2 separate regions of the Homo sapiens genome follow, and region 2 is reported to be linked to region 1. The links are microRNA targets in miRTarBase. Many come from high-throughput screens and were not tested one by one. Region 1 holds a microRNA gene; the other region holds the end of a gene's coding sequence.

What was found. Region 1 holds the annotated microRNA hsa-miR-4713-5p (UUCUCCCACUACCAGGCUCCCA, at 1,559-1,580, shown strand). A microRNA usually pairs through its seed, bases 2 to 8, with sites in the 3' UTR of a target mRNA and lowers its output. Matches are read on the target gene's strand: a 7mer-m8 pairs with bases 2 to 8, a 7mer-A1 pairs with bases 2 to 7 and ends in A, and an 8mer does both.
Region 2: miRTarBase lists MED8 as a target of hsa-miR-4713-5p. Seed matches in the 3' UTR shown: 7mer-A1 at 1,238-1,244.

What each region holds. Positions count from the first base shown.
Region 1 is chr15:51,240,642-51,245,131 of GRCh38, forward strand. It overlaps MIR4713 (microRNA 4713), which reads left to right and starts at 1,549; the gene lies at 1,549-1,623. It overlaps CYP19A1 (cytochrome P450 family 19 subfamily A member 1), which reads right to left. Exons shown (of 10, transcript NM_000103.4): 2 at 2,127-2,309. The coding sequence starts at 2,271. The region is part of intron 1 of MIR4713HG (MIR4713 host gene); the gene reads left to right. RefSeq lists promoters at 2,227-2,484, 2,287-3,264, 2,405-2,666, 2,610-2,639, 3,253-3,409, silencers at 2,485-2,646, 2,492-2,521, 2,549-2,576 and cis regulatory regions at 2,637-2,658, 3,317-3,323.
Region 2 is chr1:43,381,478-43,385,477 of GRCh38, reverse strand. MED8 (mediator complex subunit 8) reads left to right here. Exons shown (of 7, transcript NM_201542.5): 7 at 372-1,561. The coding sequence ends at 436. It overlaps MED8-AS1 (MED8 antisense RNA 1), which reads right to left and starts at 429. Exons shown (of 2, transcript XR_001738027.1): 1 at 337-429; 2 at 1-194.

The DNA of each region.
Region 1 (4,490 bases):
ATCTCACAGTCTGTGCTACTAGTGGATTCTAACTAGACCTTCTGTTTTCAAAAGGAAAGTGTGAAACTAGAAACTACCTGTCTAGCAAAATGATCATCAACCTGGGCTTTAGGACTTCCTGGTGGTCCCCCTACATTCCCACTTTCTGTCCAGCTGGGGAGATGACAAGCCATTTCCCTTCACTGGGCTTTAACCATTCACTTGTAAAACGACAAGTTTGAACTCCATGGCTTCTCATGCTTGTCATAGTGTTTTGTCTGGGCAAGGCAGATCAACTCCCTGGGTCTCAGTTTCCCCTTCTGTCAAATGAAGGAGTTAGGCTCATATTTGTGGCTCTCAACCTTGGCTGCTCATAAAAAATCAGGAAGGGAGATTTTTTTAAAAATAGCAACCCCAAACTAGCTGAGCTCCTACCTCAGACAGTGCTGAGAATCACTGTGCTACTTGATCTGACTGTCAGTGGATCAGCATGATGGCCCTGGCCCAGAAATGGTGGACAGAGTGAGGTGCTGCCTACTCTCCCACTGATCCAGAGCTTCAGGGCTGCTGGTTCTCAGGCTTGTCCTAACAGGCTGACCTCCTTGGTCAAGGGTCCAAGGAAATTCCACCAGTGCTGATTAACATAAGCATCTGCGGGGACTTTTTAAAAATGCATGTTTCTAGGCCTGAAGAGTCTGAGTCAAAAAGTCAGGAGCAGGGTCCAGGAACAGAAATGTTAACAAGCTCCTACCTGCTGGGTGTTCTTACATAGACTTAAAAGCTTGAGAACCTGTGGCTCACTGGATGGGCAATGCTGCGTGGGCAATGCTGGACTCTCCTGGCCTGATTGTCTGCTAACACAGACAAATTGGAATTTAGCACCTGAGCCTATGAAGGGAAGAAGAGGAAAAAAAGGCTCTCCACCCCCACCACTTACTCACCCCACCCCGACCATTCACTGACCCTGACCTAGAAGCCCCCTTGGGAGAGGAGAAATCCAGTGAGGAAGGGCCACACTGGGGAACAGAGTTCAAGTTAAAGACCATGAAACAGTTGTCCCTTAGCTCTGAGCCTCCCTTCTCTAGAGTTGACCCTGTCAGGGAGCAGAGAACAAAATTAACTAAATGTTCCTTTAAACTGGGCATTAAAGTAATCTAAAATATCAGGCTGAATCAGGCAGAGAGACAGGCAATTATCTGGAATGTTAAAAAGAATCCAGACACAGAGCATTTTGTGCTAGCCCCATGCTCCCACTTCTGATCCCACTGAGACTAGGCCCACCACACTTACCAGTGTGTAACTATGCTCTTAAAGTCTCATTGGATATCTTATGGAATTGGGAACAGATGTGTCTGCAATGAAGCATTTTCACTGAAACCTAAAGAAGCAGTCTGAAATTTCAAGTCATTCTGAATTAATCTGATATCTGATCATTGCGGCTTTAAGGGTGGAAGGGTGGGGTTTTCTATTGGGATTATCTGAATAATTATATTATTCTCTGCTTTTGATTGAACCACAGATCTTGTTGAAGATTCTCCCGGGGTATGATGTTCCAAGAGCACTGGAGTGGTCCCCATTTTTCTCCCACTACCAGGCTCCCATAAGGGTCGAATGGGATCCAGACAGTGGGAGAAAAATGGGGACCACTATCACCACATTCCCAAGAATAAGAGAAAATGATGAGTGGAATAAAGAGAAGGGATAAATACAAGACAAAGAGGGGGCATGGCGGAAACAAAGTGAAAGGGAGAAGAAAAGCAGTGAAGAAGATGTTCCAGAGACATTTTCACCTTCAGAGCAAAATTGCAATCTATTTTTTAAAAGTTAACCAGAAAACCCTGGAATTTTACTTTACTCCACCCCATCTTGAGCTTGTTTTAAAGGGTACTTGTGCCAAGTCTACTTTACGAAAGCACAGCACAGAGTGGAAGGGTTTATCTAAGATATTTTTTAAGTGCTTTCATTTAAAATGTGCAGATAATTGGTCTGAAAATTTTCTCCCAAGTCCTCATTTGCTAACACAGACATAGTCTTCAGAGATCTTTCCAGGTTTGCTTTTTGTCCTTTTGCAAAATTTTCTTTACCATCATGGACCAAAATCCCAAGTAAATAATCTCCTTAGATACAGAAATAAATGACTGACTTACCTGGTATTGAGGATGTGCCCTCATAATTCCACACCAAGAGAAAAAGGCCAGTGAGGAGCAGGACTGGCATGGTGGCAGCAGGCATGGCTTCAGGCACGATGCTGGTGATGTTATAATGTATCGGGTTCAGCATTTCCAAAACCATCTTGTGTTCCTTGACCTCAGAGGGGGCAATTTAGAGTCCTGTGGAAATCAAAGGGACAGAAAAATTACAGAATCCCCTAAAAGGTTCATCTATAGCTCCTGTTGCTTCAGAGGGTGCTGTACAGTACAGATTCACTTACTGTTTTATAATGTGATCAGACATTTAGGCAAGACTAATTTATGGTTACAAGTCAAAACAAGGAAGCCCAAGAAAGATCTTTTGGCTTGAATTGCAGCATTTCTGACCTTGGTAGAGTCTCAGGTTCCTTTAGACGCTTGGTCTGATAGAACCTTATCATCTTGCCCTTGAGTGGGTAGAGTGACGTGCATTCCCAATTGAAAGCCAAATTTCTTGCCAAATTATAAGAAAATAAAGCTCATTCCAGAGGTGGAGTCATTTTGTGACTTCATCAGCAGGTTTTGTTTAGGCAATCTTCTTCCCTTGAAGCCAAATCAATTTCAAAACAAAAAGGCAATCTCCCAACTCCCCTTTTTGACCAAAATGACTTTTTTGATCAAAATAGTAAGTTTCTACAGTAAGAACACATTTCTTGGGCATCGTTGAGGTCTTCTCAGAGCCTTCCATCAGTTTGTCTATTGAATTCAAAGTGACTCACTCAGGCCATCTCTAGTGACTTCAATGAAGATCTAAAATCTCTTGTACCATGGGCCAGATTAAACAGTATCCCTAGGGACCGGCCAACGGTAGTGTGGAAAAAAAGAATTGCAGAGGAAGAATAAGGGAGAAGAGAATGAAAGGAATGGGGAAGGAGGAAGAAAGAGAGAACAGGCAGAATAGGATGCCACCAGCAATAGGCTCAGGTGCCACTCAGGAACCTCATTCGAAGAGCAGCTAACATCCTGTGCAAGACAATCAATTTACAGTCTGATGTGCTGGTTCTGCTGTGTTTTTCAACATGCCATTGAATCTGTCTTTTCAGCCAGGTTTTGTAATCCCTTTACTCTCAGAACAGAGTTTCAGGGATGGTAGGTAGTCTGTAGCTGAAGAGGTGTAGGTTGAACAAACTTGTATAGTGAGGAAAGAGTGAGTCATCATTAAATGCATTTTCAGTGGCAGATGACATACTCCAAGGTTTGCCTTTACTTAGACAGGGCCTAGAGTTTCTGTGACTTGCAATGGCTCTCAATCAGACTTGTGCTGGGTTTCACCTGTAATAAAATTCTAGATTCACAGCCAGGGCTTCTAACTGGATATTGGGGGCTCTGTGTATTCCTTGAAACACTGCATAAAATATTGTAATCGGCACATTCTAGTGGAGAAAGGCCATAACTTTCATCAGATTCTTAAGGAGTATGTCATTATATTTCTCCTCTGATCTATATGAGATCTTAAAGTCCAAAGACTGATTTCTGTCAACTACAAAATTTTTACAACATAGTTGAATTTATCCAGTTGTTTCATCATTTTATGTTATTCTACCATTTAAATAATCATTAATGCTTGGGTGCAGGGCACTGAAAATGCACTGGAAAGGTCCTTTGAGATTCTCTCCTGAAAGCACATTGTGCTTATGTTGAGCAGTTTTGTGGTTGTTTTTTTTTTAATATATATAAGTCGAAACTAAAAAGTCAGCCTTGTGTCTGTTATCATCTGGTTCCTTTGTTGATGACAAGCTATTTTTAACAGGGTGAGGTTTTAAATTTCTAGAGTGGAATTTGACATCATTCTGAGTAAGTTCTATGTGACTTTCTGACAGTTGGGACCCTTGAAGTTTCGATTTATATTGATGAAACCTGAAACCATTGTTCAAAGCATAAATGAGGAAAGTGGTTGCAACAAAAAGGATGAAGATGTCCCACAGGAAGTGATCCCAGCAAAAAACTTCACATTATAGGAACTTCCAGAGGTATTTCACAACACTGAAAGCAAAGAGATAAGATGTTGCAAGCTGATGCAAATTTATAAAGGACTATGGCAATTCACTGGCATAGAAAAGATGTTCCCTCAGTATCGTAAGTTATGCAAAGAGAAGAAGGCAAGCACTTTTAAAAAACCTGTTAGTAAGTTTATTTTCACAAAGAAAGAAAACACTTAAAATGTTGCATTGTTTCTAATGTTTCAAATTACTGTGTCCTAAAATATTTTACTATTTTTGTTTGTTTGTTCCCCTACACACTTATAACCTATGGTAAGAGTTTCTAATGCTTTGACAACAAATTTTAAAGGTCACAGAACAGTTTTAATTTTTCTCTTGATTT
Region 2 (4,000 bases), not on the chromosome of region 1:
CTCCAAGCTGTCTAGGAAAAGGGACAATTAAAGAGAGATTCTGCACTTATTATGATATAAAAAAAGAAAAACAATGAGAGAACATAGTACTCTTTTACCTGTGACGTTAAATGGGAGTCACACAGGTTTAGCTATCTGTTCTAGGAGTGGATGAACAGACTATTCTCCCATGTCACTTCTTTCCTCCTGGACACCTTCAGGGAGACAGCTGGGTGAAGAATCATACTTCTGACCTCTGTCAAACAGGGTCAGATGCCGCAGAGGTTCTGAGATGATAAAGGAAGTGACAGAGGGAACCTGAGGTACCACATTTCTGATTTGTCATGAAAGTCTTACCTTGCTTAAGATGACTTTTTTAATGTTCCTTTCAGGGAAAATGCCAAGTGGAATAAAAACCAACATCAAGTCGGCTTCCATGCATCCCTACCAGCGGTGAGTGTGGCTGGCAACCTCGACTCCCTGGTGCTCTTTGCAGAGTTGGGCAGTGAAATTACCTTTTGCTCAAGGCTCACCTAGATGGGTACAATAAAAAGAACATGGGCTTTCAGCAGCAGACAAATCCCACTTCCACCACTGACTAGCTGTGTGACCTTGGACAAGTGACCTAATTTTTCTGAGCCTGTTTCTCATTTGTAAATGGTGATAATACCTACCTCATAGGGTTGTTGTGAGGATTAAAATGAGGAAATGAATGTAAAGCACTTAGTACAGTATATGAAATAATGGGTATTCAATAAATGATAGTTTCTACAGATCCTTCTCCCCACCACCCTCCACAGTCCTTGATCCAGAACTTACCCTAATCTGATACTGCCTCACGTCAATGGTGAGCTGATGGACACAAGATCAAATAAGGCTATGCTTATTTTGTGCTGCCAGAAACTGTAGCAACCTCTGTGTTCTTAGAGGCACACTGTTTTTGCAGGCCCTCCTGCCTGGGTTTCATTCTGGCTATCCCTCTAAGGCGCAAGGTGAAGAAGCTTCTGGGCCAGGAAGGAAAAAAAAATGCCCACCTGCAGCTCTGGTGAAGCTTGGGCCTGCTCTCCTTTCCATCCTCTAAGGAGCCAACTTGGCTTTTACCTGTCAAATAGTCATAAAGTCCCCTATCCTTTACCCCACCTTATACACACGAGGCTTTCTCAGGAAGTGGCTCTGCCAGGCAGGACTATGTGGGAAAGGGTTTTTCCTTAGCACACGAAAAAGCCCCTTCCCCTGGATTCATGTTTCTTATTTTGGAGGGAGAAGGGAATTGCACTTCACACTGCCATCAGGGTTTAGTTGACCTCATAATGGTGCCCACTTTCTCGACTTTGGCCAGGATTTCCTTCAAAGAAAACGACTTTCCTTCATTTCCCTAAGCCTGTGGCCCAAATGGTGGACCAGAATGATGGTGGGAGGGGGCAACCCCCAGTAGCTTTGCCTGCTTTTATAAAGTTGAACAAATTGAATTTAGACATTCAGGCTAACCTGCCTTTCTTAGTACTCCTTTGTTGGCATGGGCAGGGGTTGAGTCAGCAGAAGTGGACCAAAGGATTCCTCTGAATAAAGTTATTTAAATTGATGTTCACTGGCTCAGGGTTGTCTGACAGTAATTTATGAGAGCACTACATAGGGATCAGAGGGGCAGTTTCAAGAGTGCTGCAAGGCAGTTCTAATTTGTTCTCCATAAAAAAGTTTCCGTATCTTTAATTAGCTTTGATCTAAAAATCCTGAAACTTCCCTCCTGCTCATACCTTCCAGCTGCCTTTTTTCTGTTCTGTCACACACTGGTACTTTGGCATTTGTTCAGTGCCAAACAAAGTTCTGCCAGGCTGTGGCAGCAAAGGACTGGAAAAGTGGTCCCAGATGTCACATCTGTTACCATTCCATCAAGGTGAGGAATGGTATCCACAAAGCTCACTGACCACAATACATAGCAGTAGGGGAGTCTGGTCACCAGCTCTAAGGCAATGCCAGACCTTTCCCCCACTTAAACTGTTCCGGCTCATCAGCCCACTCAGGTGTTATCTTCTCACCTCTTCCCTTCCCACTGGAAATGTCAGTATTAACTGGCATATTGGGTAGAGTTTGAGCTGTGCTTCTCTGAAATTCCTGGAGCATCTTTTGGTGACTATTGTCCTTTACTCCACCAAAAGATTCCCTCCTATTGAATGGCACCAACCCCAAGTTTTTTTGTGTCCCAGGCAAATACTGACTTCATCCCCACCATACTATTAAAATGGATTCCTTGTCATCCAAGAATGGAAATATCCTCTTGCCCCAACAGGAACATATGCAGGATGTCACCTACATCTTGTTCCCCTAAGCAAACACTCCTTCCTCTAGAGGGACTCCTCTACATTCATCACCGTAGGAGCACATGCTGTCGTTTTTATCCCCCATCCTCAAATCATCTGGAGTACACAAATCTCAGTAGTGTCTCCCACTTTGGGGTCCATACAGCCTATTAAATGCCTCAATAGAGAGTATGTATCTCCCACCCCTAACATACTCATTCCCTCAGGAGGGAATACATATACAGTTTTCCTTTGAAGAAGGGGACATGACCTATTTACTGGCTCAGATTTAGGATTTGCAAAAGGTGACTATTGGCCTACTCTGGTAACATTCCTCTGTTTTTGACTGTCCTGTTTTGCTTGGAGATCGTGCTTTCTCCTATTCTTGGGTCCCCTGGAGAAAGAGATTAGGCCATTGTCTCCTAGGTTTGTGTCTAGGATGGAGAAAGAAGCAGCAGCTGTGAAACGTCAAGAGCTTACTACAGGACAGAGTTCATCCTGCTGAAGGCGGAAGCTTATCCAATCAATGTCAGCATAAGGCCCATTGCCTAGGATCTCTCCCTCTCCAGCTCTGCCCTGAGCCTGGGATTCAGTCATTGCTGAACCTCTCTTTTGCTCATTGTGCCAGTCACCCCATTCTGTTCCCCTTCTGGTGTTTATTGCTGCCCTACTTAGCTGGTGTACCTCATTCAACCCTGTCGTTTTTTGGGAAACAGCCAAGATAGATAGGTTGTAGCCAAGTGCTCCTTAGAACTCCATAATGGGTCCCAGCATTAGGATTGAGCTGGAGGGGGTGTAATTGCCCACCTCCTGTTGTGCTGCCACAGAGAAGAAGCTGAACTCTGCAGGAATGCCCCAGTGCAAGGCTGGTCCCTTTTCCCACCCCCCTCTCACCTCCCCCAGGCAGCTGGAAACAACCTCTCCCTTTGTCTGAGCTTCTTGTACAGAATAATCCTCCTTATGGACAATGTATTCTCTGTGCCCTGTGGACACAGGAGCTGTGTAAGCTGATCCCAGCACCAGGCAGGACGGAGGCTGAGTCCTTCCAAACGCCCACCCTGGGTCAGCTCCTGATTACTGTCCAGATGAACTACGAAGGAGTGTACATTCTCTTCCATCTGCCTTTCCTATCTGCTCCAGAATTAGGGGAATAGCCTACTGAAGTTTAGCATTGGGCCAGGAGTAGGAACAGGGGATGTGGTCCTTTTCTGTTCAGTCTTGAGGGTTCACAGTGCCTGCTTATGGAGGCTCGATGTGGCTCTTGCCTGGAAACCTCAAACACATGGGGACTAACCCTTGGAAAGGGCTTGCCACTGTGCAGATGGGGCTTTATGATTGGAACAGAAGGCAAACTCCAACGCATCTGATGGGACCATGGTGCCCCATCACTTCAGCATGTGTTTTGTCCCACAAGACAAAGTTCCTTTCTTCTTCCCTTTAACTTCTCTTTTTTTTTGAGCTCCATGTGTCACTGAGGCAGCTCTTGGGTTCCTGTTGTGGTCTCTCAATGAGTCACATGCCATTTGGACATGGCAGCTTCCCTAAGTACATCGTGGACAAGGCATCTCACTTCCCTAAGCCTCAGTTTTCTCACTTGGTGATCCCAGTGATCCTTTTTAGGTCTAAAGTCTGTGGCAATGATTTTCAAACCCATTTATCCCCAGGCATTTTGTTTTGTTTTGTTTTCCTTGGTGCATGACTGTTACATAAATAGGCCAAAATTT